Linked DNA regions of Homo sapiens. The protein of the gene in region 1 binds, or shares a complex with, the protein of each later gene. Each region holds a gene or a part of one and is shown on either strand. Other genes may lie near its edges.

The links.
Region 2: the proteins of ZFYVE16 (region 1) and PTPN23 are in contact, whole or in part, in a crystal structure (PDB 5MK0), measured with the Homo sapiens proteins. Residues at the interface, in NP_001098721.2 of Homo sapiens: Asp2, Tyr4, Phe5, Ala8, Val9, Leu12, Asp13, Leu15, Leu16, Asp17, Phe19, Glu20, Gln21; in NP_056281.1 of Homo sapiens: Phe62, His125, Glu137, Glu138, Lys141, Val142, Cys144, Thr145, His146, Gln148, Cys149, Leu189, Lys192, Ser193, Asp196, Arg198, Lys199, Phe201, Leu202, Arg205, Ile206, Ala336, Leu338, Leu342, Asp348, Ala350, Val351.

What each region holds. Positions count from the first base shown.
Region 1 is NC_000005.10:80,432,040-80,435,961, reverse strand, and holds part of ZFYVE16 (zinc finger FYVE domain-containing protein 16), read right to left. Parts: intron 1,854-3,922; 5' UTR 1,815-1,853; coding exon 1,745-1,814; intron 1-1,744.
Region 2 is NC_000003.12:47,390,966-47,394,887, reverse strand, and holds part of PTPN23 (tyrosine-protein phosphatase non-receptor type 23), read right to left. Parts: intron 1-3,922. UniProt on the Homo sapiens protein: Plays a role in sorting of endocytic ubiquitinated cargos into multivesicular bodies (MVBs) via its interaction with the ESCRT-I complex (endosomal sorting complex required for transport I), and possibly also other ESCRT complexes.

The DNA.
Region 1 (3,922 bases):
TGACTTTAAATTACTTCCTGGATTTTACTTTTGAATGTAGATATCATAAAGTGATAAAAATTCCACTCAAAAAAATAACTTAGTTGTGGCCAGGAATGGTGGCTTACAACTGTAATCCCAGCGCTTTGGGAAGCCACGGTCGGAGGATAACTTGAGATCAGGAGTTCAAGACCAGCCTGAGCAACACAGTGAGACCCCATCTGTAAAAAATATACACATTTTTAAATTAGCCGGGCATGCTGGCGCACACTTGTGGTCCCAGCTACTCAGAAGGCTGAGGTGAGAGGATTGCCTGAGGGCAGGAATTCAAGGCTGCAGTGAGCTATGACTGCACCATTGCACTCCGGCTAGGGTGAAAGAGCAAGACCCTGTCTCTTAGAAAAAAAAGAAACTTAGTTGCACTATAAAAACCAGACTAAGGAAGAACTAAAAAACAATCCAACGTCTTTGTTTTGACTTCCAGTTTCCTAGTCTTCGTTTTAAAGAAAATAACACCCAGACGTGGTGGCTCACGCCTATCATCCCAGCACTTTGGGAGGCTGAGACAGGCGGATAACCTGAGGCCAGGCGTTTAAGACTAGCCTGGCCAACATGGTGAAACCCCATCTCTACCAAAAATACAAAAATTAGGCCGGGCCTGGTGGCTCAGGCCTGTAATCCCAGCACTTTGGGAGGCTGAGGCGGGTGGATCACAAGGCCAGGAGTTCGAGACCAGCCTAGCCAATATGGTGAAACCCCGTTTCTACTAAAAATACAAAAATTAGCTGGGCATGGTGGTGGGCACCTGTAGTCCCAGCTACTCGGGAGGCTGAGGCAGGAGAATCGCTTGAACCTGGGAGGCAGAAGTTGCAGTGAGCCGAGATCATGCCACTGCACTCCAGCCTGGACAAGAGAGTGAGACTCCGTCTCAGAAACAAACAAACAAACAAAAAATTAGCCAGGCATGGTGGGGGGTGCCTGTAATCCCAGCTCCTCAGGAGGCTGAGGCAGAAGAAGTGCTTGAACCCGGGAAGTGGAGGTTGCAGTGAGCTGACATGGCGCCACTGCACTCCAGCCTGGGCAACAACAGTGAAACTCCATCTCAAAAAAGAAATAATAATAAAATAAAATACCATCTCTTGTTGTAATGAAATATCAATTCATGCAGAACTCTCAAGTTGCTTTTAGCTTGCTCATATGTTGGTCTTTCTGGGGCCAAGTACATGACTCATGCCTATAATCCCAACATTTTGGTAGGCTGAAGCAGGAGGATCACTTGAACCCCGGAATTCGAGACCAGCCTGGGCAACATAGGAAGATTCTGTCTCTACAAATAACTGAAAAATTAGCCAGCATGGTGGCATGCACCTATGGTCCCACTTGGAGGCTGAAGTGGGAGAAATGCTTGAGCCTCGGGGGTTGAGGCTGCAATGAGCTCTGATTGTGCCACTGCACTTCAGCCTGGGAGACAGAATGAGACTTTGTCTCAAAAATAAAAAGAAAAGAAAAGAAAAGAAATGTCTGTCTTATAGCTAATTTGTATCTAGAAAAAAACTTTCTAGGTTCCTTACTTCTGTTTCTGGCTATGGGTCCCATTCAGTCTAAGAATCAACTAACATCTTATTATGAAATAAATGAACTTTTTGCAGAAGATAACGTGACCAAAATTGAAAGAAAATTTTGCTAATATTACTGTATACCTGAGATAACTTAATTACAGATATTTTTAAATCCCATTAGCGGCAAAAATGGAAAATCAACAAACCTGGGTTCTGTTCAAAATCATCAAGGAGTTTGTCCAAGTCACTGACAGCTGCTTTAAAATAACTGTCCATCCTACCTGCAGACTTATTCAGAATTTAATTCTTGTATGCCTAAAAAATAGAAAGTATAATAATATTTCATTTAATTACATAACAAATTTTATGCCATGTATTCCATGCCAGGAAACACAGTCAAGAAATTGACACAGAAATAAAATTTAAGAGTGCTGCTTTAAGGAATATACAATTTAGTTGGGGAAACTGCCCCTGTATATGTAAAAATGACATGAAAACCAACTCTAACAACATAATATTTGCATATATAAACTATTGTAAATTTTTAAACACTTACCTAAATAACTCATGGGTCAAAGAAGAATTCATAATGGAAAGCTAAAACTACTTATAAATACAACATATCAAACTACAAACGCATAAAAATAATGCACATAAAAACTCTGGGATTCAGGAAAAGTGGTACTTCAAGAGATACTTAGAGCCTTAAATGCTTTTTTTTTTCTTTTTTTAGTGGAAGACAATTATATTCTAACAAATGAAACTATTTTTCAGCAGGGTTTACATGTCATCTCTTTCTATAAACTTCTCTGGAGTTTTTTTTATATACTTTTTATATTATACCTTAAGTTCTAGGGTACATGTGCATAACGTGCAGGTTTGTTAACGTATGTATACATGTCCCATGTTGGTGTGCTGCACCCATTAACTCATCATTTACATTAGGTATATCTCCTAATGCTATCCCTCCCACATCTCCCCACACCACGACAGGCCCTGGTGTGTGATGTTCCCCTTCCTGTGTCCAGGTGTTCTCATTGTTCAATTCCCAACTACGAGTGAGAATATGCGGTGTTTGGTTTTTCGTCCTTGCGATAGTTGGCTGAGAATGATGGTTTCCAGCTTCATCCATGTCCCTACAAATGACATGAACTCATCCTCTTTTATGGCTGCATAGTATTCCATGGTGTATATGTGCCACATTTTCTTAATCCAGTCTATCATTGATGGACATTTGGGTTGGTTCCAAGTCTTTGCTATTGTGAGTAGTGCCGCAATAAACATATGTGTGCATGTGTCTTTATAGCAGCATGATTTATAGTCCTTTGGGTATATACCCAGTAATGGGATGGCTGGGTCAAATGGTATTTCTAGTTCTAGATCCCTAAGGAATCGCCACACTGACGTCCACAATGGTTGAACTAGTTTACAATCCCACCAAGTGTAAAAGCATTCCTGTTTTTCCACATCCTCTCCAGCACCTGTTTCCTGACTTTTTAAGGATCGCCATTCTAACTGGTGTGAGACGGTATCTCATTGTGGTTTTGATCTGCATTTCTCTGATGGCCAGTGATGATGAGCATTTTTTCATGTGTTTTTTGGCTGCATATATGTCTTCTTTTGAGAAGTGTCTGTTCATATCCTTCGCCCACTTGTTGATGGGGTTGTTGGTTTGTTTTTTTCTTGTAAATTTGTTTGAGTTTTTTTGTAGATTCTGGGTATCTGCCCTTTGTCAGACGAGTAGATTGCAAAAATTTTCTCCCATTCTGTAGGTTGCCTGTTCACTCTGATGGTAGTTTCTTTTGCTGTGCAGATGCTCTTTAGTTTAATCTGATCCCATTTGTCAATTTTGGCTTTTGTTGCCATTGCTTTTGGTGCTTCAGACATGAAGTCCTTGCCCATGCCTATGTCCTGAATGGTATTGCCTAGGTTTTCTTCTAGGGTTTTTATAGTTTTAGGTCTAACATTTAAGTCTTTAACCCATCTTGAATTAATTTTCATATAAGGTGTAAGGAAGGGATTCCAGTTTCAGCTTTCTACATATGGCTAGCCAGTTTTCCCAGCACCATTTGTTAAATAGGGAATCCTTTCCCCATTTCTTGTTTTTGTCAGGTTTGTCAAAGATCAGATGGTTGTAGATGTGTGGTATTATTTCTGAGGGCTCTGTTCTGTTCCATTTGTCTATATCTCTGTTTTGGTACCAGTACCATGCTGTTTTGGTTACTGTAGCCTTGTAGTATAGTTTGAAGTCAGGTAGCGTGATGCCTCCAGCTTTGTTTTTTTGGCTTAGGATCGACTTGGCAATGCGGGCCCTTTTTTGGTTCCATATGAACTTTAAAGTAGTTTTTGCCAATTCTGTGAAGAAAGTCATTGGTAGCTTGATG
Region 2 (3,922 bases), on another chromosome or scaffold:
TCCGTCCCTTACCAAGTGGCCAGAATTGTTATTTCTAGCACAACTCTGAGGTCACTTCCAGCTTTAAATCCTTCTGAAACACACACACACCCTTAGGGAGAAGATAGACCAAAACATGCTTATCTCAGGACAGTGAGATGATAGGAAATGATATATAATCTAAAAAGAATGTGTGCAGTAGCTTCCCAAAGCCTCTAGGACCAAATCTAATTTTGGCACAGAGTTTATGACCCTGCACAACCTGTTCCTGGCCGGGTGAGGTGGCTCAAGCGTGTAATCCCAACACTTTGGGTGGCCAAGGTGGGAGGATCACTTCAGGTCAGGAATTAGAGATCAGCCTGGGCAAAAGAGCAAGACCCGTCTCTACAAAAATAAACAACCTGCTCCCCACAACCTTCAAGGATTTTCCTCTGGCACCTCCCAGGGACAACCAGCCAATAGTACTTGGGAATTGCTGCTCTCAGGTATCAATGCCTATCTACATTGTCCCTACTTTCTCTACTAAGACTCAGCCGAAATGTCACTGCCTTGAACATTAGCTGCTCTTCCGCTCACATTCCAAACATGCCTCCAACATACTGTGTGCCGACGGCAGGGTCATGCCAGTGACCCCAGCCTCAAACAATAAGCATTAAGGAATGGTAGGGGCCTTATCAGATGTGTTGTATACTCAGCAAATGATTGCTTTTACAGGAAATGCAGAGGACAGATGAACACGAAAAGGAAACACTCAGAAAAATTCAGAAAATGGGGCAACAATGAACCCACTCTCTTCAAAAAATTAATGTCATGTAAAAGGAGGGGGTTGAGCAGTGGACTATTCTAGATTAAAAATGATTAAACAGGTTGGATATGGTGGCTCAAGTCTGTAATCCCAGCACTTTGGGTGGCTGAGGTCAGAGGACTGTTGAGCCCAGGAGTTCCAGAGCAGCCTGGGCAACATGAGACCCTATCTCTACAAATTAAAAAAAAAAAAAAAAATTAGCTGGGTATGGTAGCCCACGCCTGTAGTCCCAGCTACTCAAGAGGGAGAGGTGGGAGAATCAGCCTGGGAGGTTGAGGCTGTGGTGAGCTGTGTGCACACTCCAGTCTGTTTCCAAAAATAATAATAATAATAATAAATAAACAAATAAATAAGTGATTAAAGGGACAGAACACAACTAAATGCAATATGAGAACCCCAGCTGGATCTGAGTCTGCAAAAAAAAGGAAAAGTCATAAAAGATAGGGGAAAATTATTGTAGATTTTCTTAGGTATGATAATAACATTGTGATTGTGTAGAATGTCCTCACTCTTAGGAAACACATGCTGAGATGTGTCCGGGAAAAGTGATGTCCAAAACTTACTTTCAAAGGGCTTGTGGGATCTCTCTCTATCTATCTATCTATCTGGAGAGAAAACAAATAAGGTGAAATACATCCATCAAAACTAGGTAGCCGGGCACAGTGGCTTATGCCTGTAATCCCAACACTTTGGGAGGCCAAGGCAGGTGGATCACTTGAGGTCAGGAGTTCGAGACCAGCCTGACCAACATGGTGAAACCCCATCTCTACTAAAAACACAAAAATTAGCCAGGCATGGTGGTGGGCACCTGTAATCCCAACTTCTCAGGAGGCTGAGACAGGAGAATCGCTTGAACTCAGGAGGGGGAGGTTGCAGTGAGCTGAGATTACAACACTGCACTCCAGCCTTGGCCACACAGCAAGACTCCATCTTAAAAAAACAAAACAAACAAACAAAACTAGGTAACACACTGGGTGCAGTGGTTCACACCTGTACTTCCAGCACTTTGGGAGGCCGAGGCCAGAGGATCACTTGACCCCAAGAGTTCAAGGCCAGACTGGGCAACATAACAATAAATCCCATCTCTACAAAAATTTAAAAATGAATCAGCCAGGTGCAGCGCACATCTGTAGTCTCAGCTACTCCAGAGGCTGAGGCAGGAGGATCACTTGAGCCTAGCAGTTCAAGTCCAGCCTGGGCAACAAAGAGTAAATCCCATCTCTAAAAACAAAACAAAACAAAAATACTAGATAGTGAGAATTTGGGTGAGCACTGAATTATTCTTCCAATTTTTCTATATGTTTGAAATTTGGAAAACAAATGTCTTAAGAGTTGCTGAAGAGCTAAATGGTACCTGAATACCACTTTCCCCTATCAGTGGTTTTTATTTAGCCTTTTGTGGGTCCTTTGAGAATATGATAAAAGCCATGAATTAAATCCCCCTAGAAATTTTCAACTATGCACAAACATAAGGATTTACCAAGAACTTTAGGGAGCTGACAGGCATTTAACAATCTTCACTCTGATCTATCCAACTCCACCCCCTCTCCACTCCCTCCCTCAAAAATAATTATGACAACAACAACAACAAAAACACAACTACAAAAAGTGGCCTTGGGTTGGGCATGATGGCTCATGACTATAATCCCAGCACTTTGGTAGGCTGGGGTGAGAGGATCACTTGAGGCTAGGAGTTCCAGACCAGCCTGGGCAATATGGCGAGACCCCCATCTCTACGAAAAAAAATTTAAAAATTAGCCAGGAGTGGTGGTGCATGCCTGTGGTCTCAGCTAGTTGGGAGGCTGAGGCAGGACTGCTTAAGCTCAGGAGTTTGAAGCTGCAGTGAGCTATGATGGCACCACCTTACTTCAGCTGGGGTGTCAGAGTGAGACCCTGTCTGTATTAAAAAATAAAAATAGGCCAGGCACAGTGGCTCATGCCTGTAATCCCAGCAGTTTGGGAGGCCAAGGTGGGCCGATCGTTTGAGCCCAGGAGTTCAAGACAAGCCTGGGCAACATGGCAAAACCCCATTTCTACAAAAAGCACAAGAATTAGCCACGTGTGGTGGTGTGCGCCTATACTCTTGGCCAGTTGGGAGGTTGAGGTGAGAGGACTGCTTGACACCAGGAGTTCAAGGTTGCAGTGAACCATGATTGTGCCACTGCACTCCAGCCTGGGTGAGAGTGTGACACTATCTCAAAAATAATTAATTAACTAAAATATTTTTTAAAATGTGGCCTAAGCTATGAGGTAAAACTTGACTATATGAGAGAATGTTCTGTGGTTAACTCCCTTGCAGTAAGAGGTTTTGCCCACCCTTAGGTTAGAGAAAATGAGTAAAAGTGTAGCTCAGAGGTCTCGTGGGATAGAGGCCAAAGGAATCAGATGGACAGGAGACTCCTACATCCTAGAAACAAGGCTTCCCGTGATATCACTAGGAACATCTGACCCTGCTGTTCACACAATGGTGACAGAAAGATGCTGCTCCCACCCCTAGCAAATCATGCCTAGAGGTCACATTCTATCTGAATCTCATCTCCGTCCTCCTATAAGATCAGCAGCAGATGCTTAACTGAGAACCTACCACAGGTCAGGCACTGTGCTGAGTGCCTAGTAATCACTCCATCCTTAGAACAACCCTAAGAGGTAGACACTATTATCATCACCACTTTACAGATGAGGAAATGAGGAAACTGAGGCAAAGAGTTAGGGTATTCACCAAGGTCACGGTGCTAATAACTGATGGGGATATGACTGAAACCCAGGCATTTGGGCTCCAGAGCCCATGTTCTTTCCATATTAGACCATTCCATTTCTATTTAAATTGTTTTTAGTTTATTTTTTATTGTTTTATTTTATTTTCGAGACAAGGTCTTGTTCTGTTGCCCAGGCTGGAGTTACAGTGGTACTGCAACCATAGCTCACTGCAGTCTCAAACTCCTGGGTCCAAGTAATTCTCCTGCCTCAGCCTTCCAAGAAGCCGGAACTACAGGCACATACCACCATACTCAGCTAATTTTCTGTAGAGGTAGTGTCTTGCTATATTGCCCAGGCTGGTCTGGAACTTCTAGCCTCAAGCAATCCTTCTGCCTCAGACTCCCAAAGTGTTGGGATTACAGACATGAGCCATCACGCCCA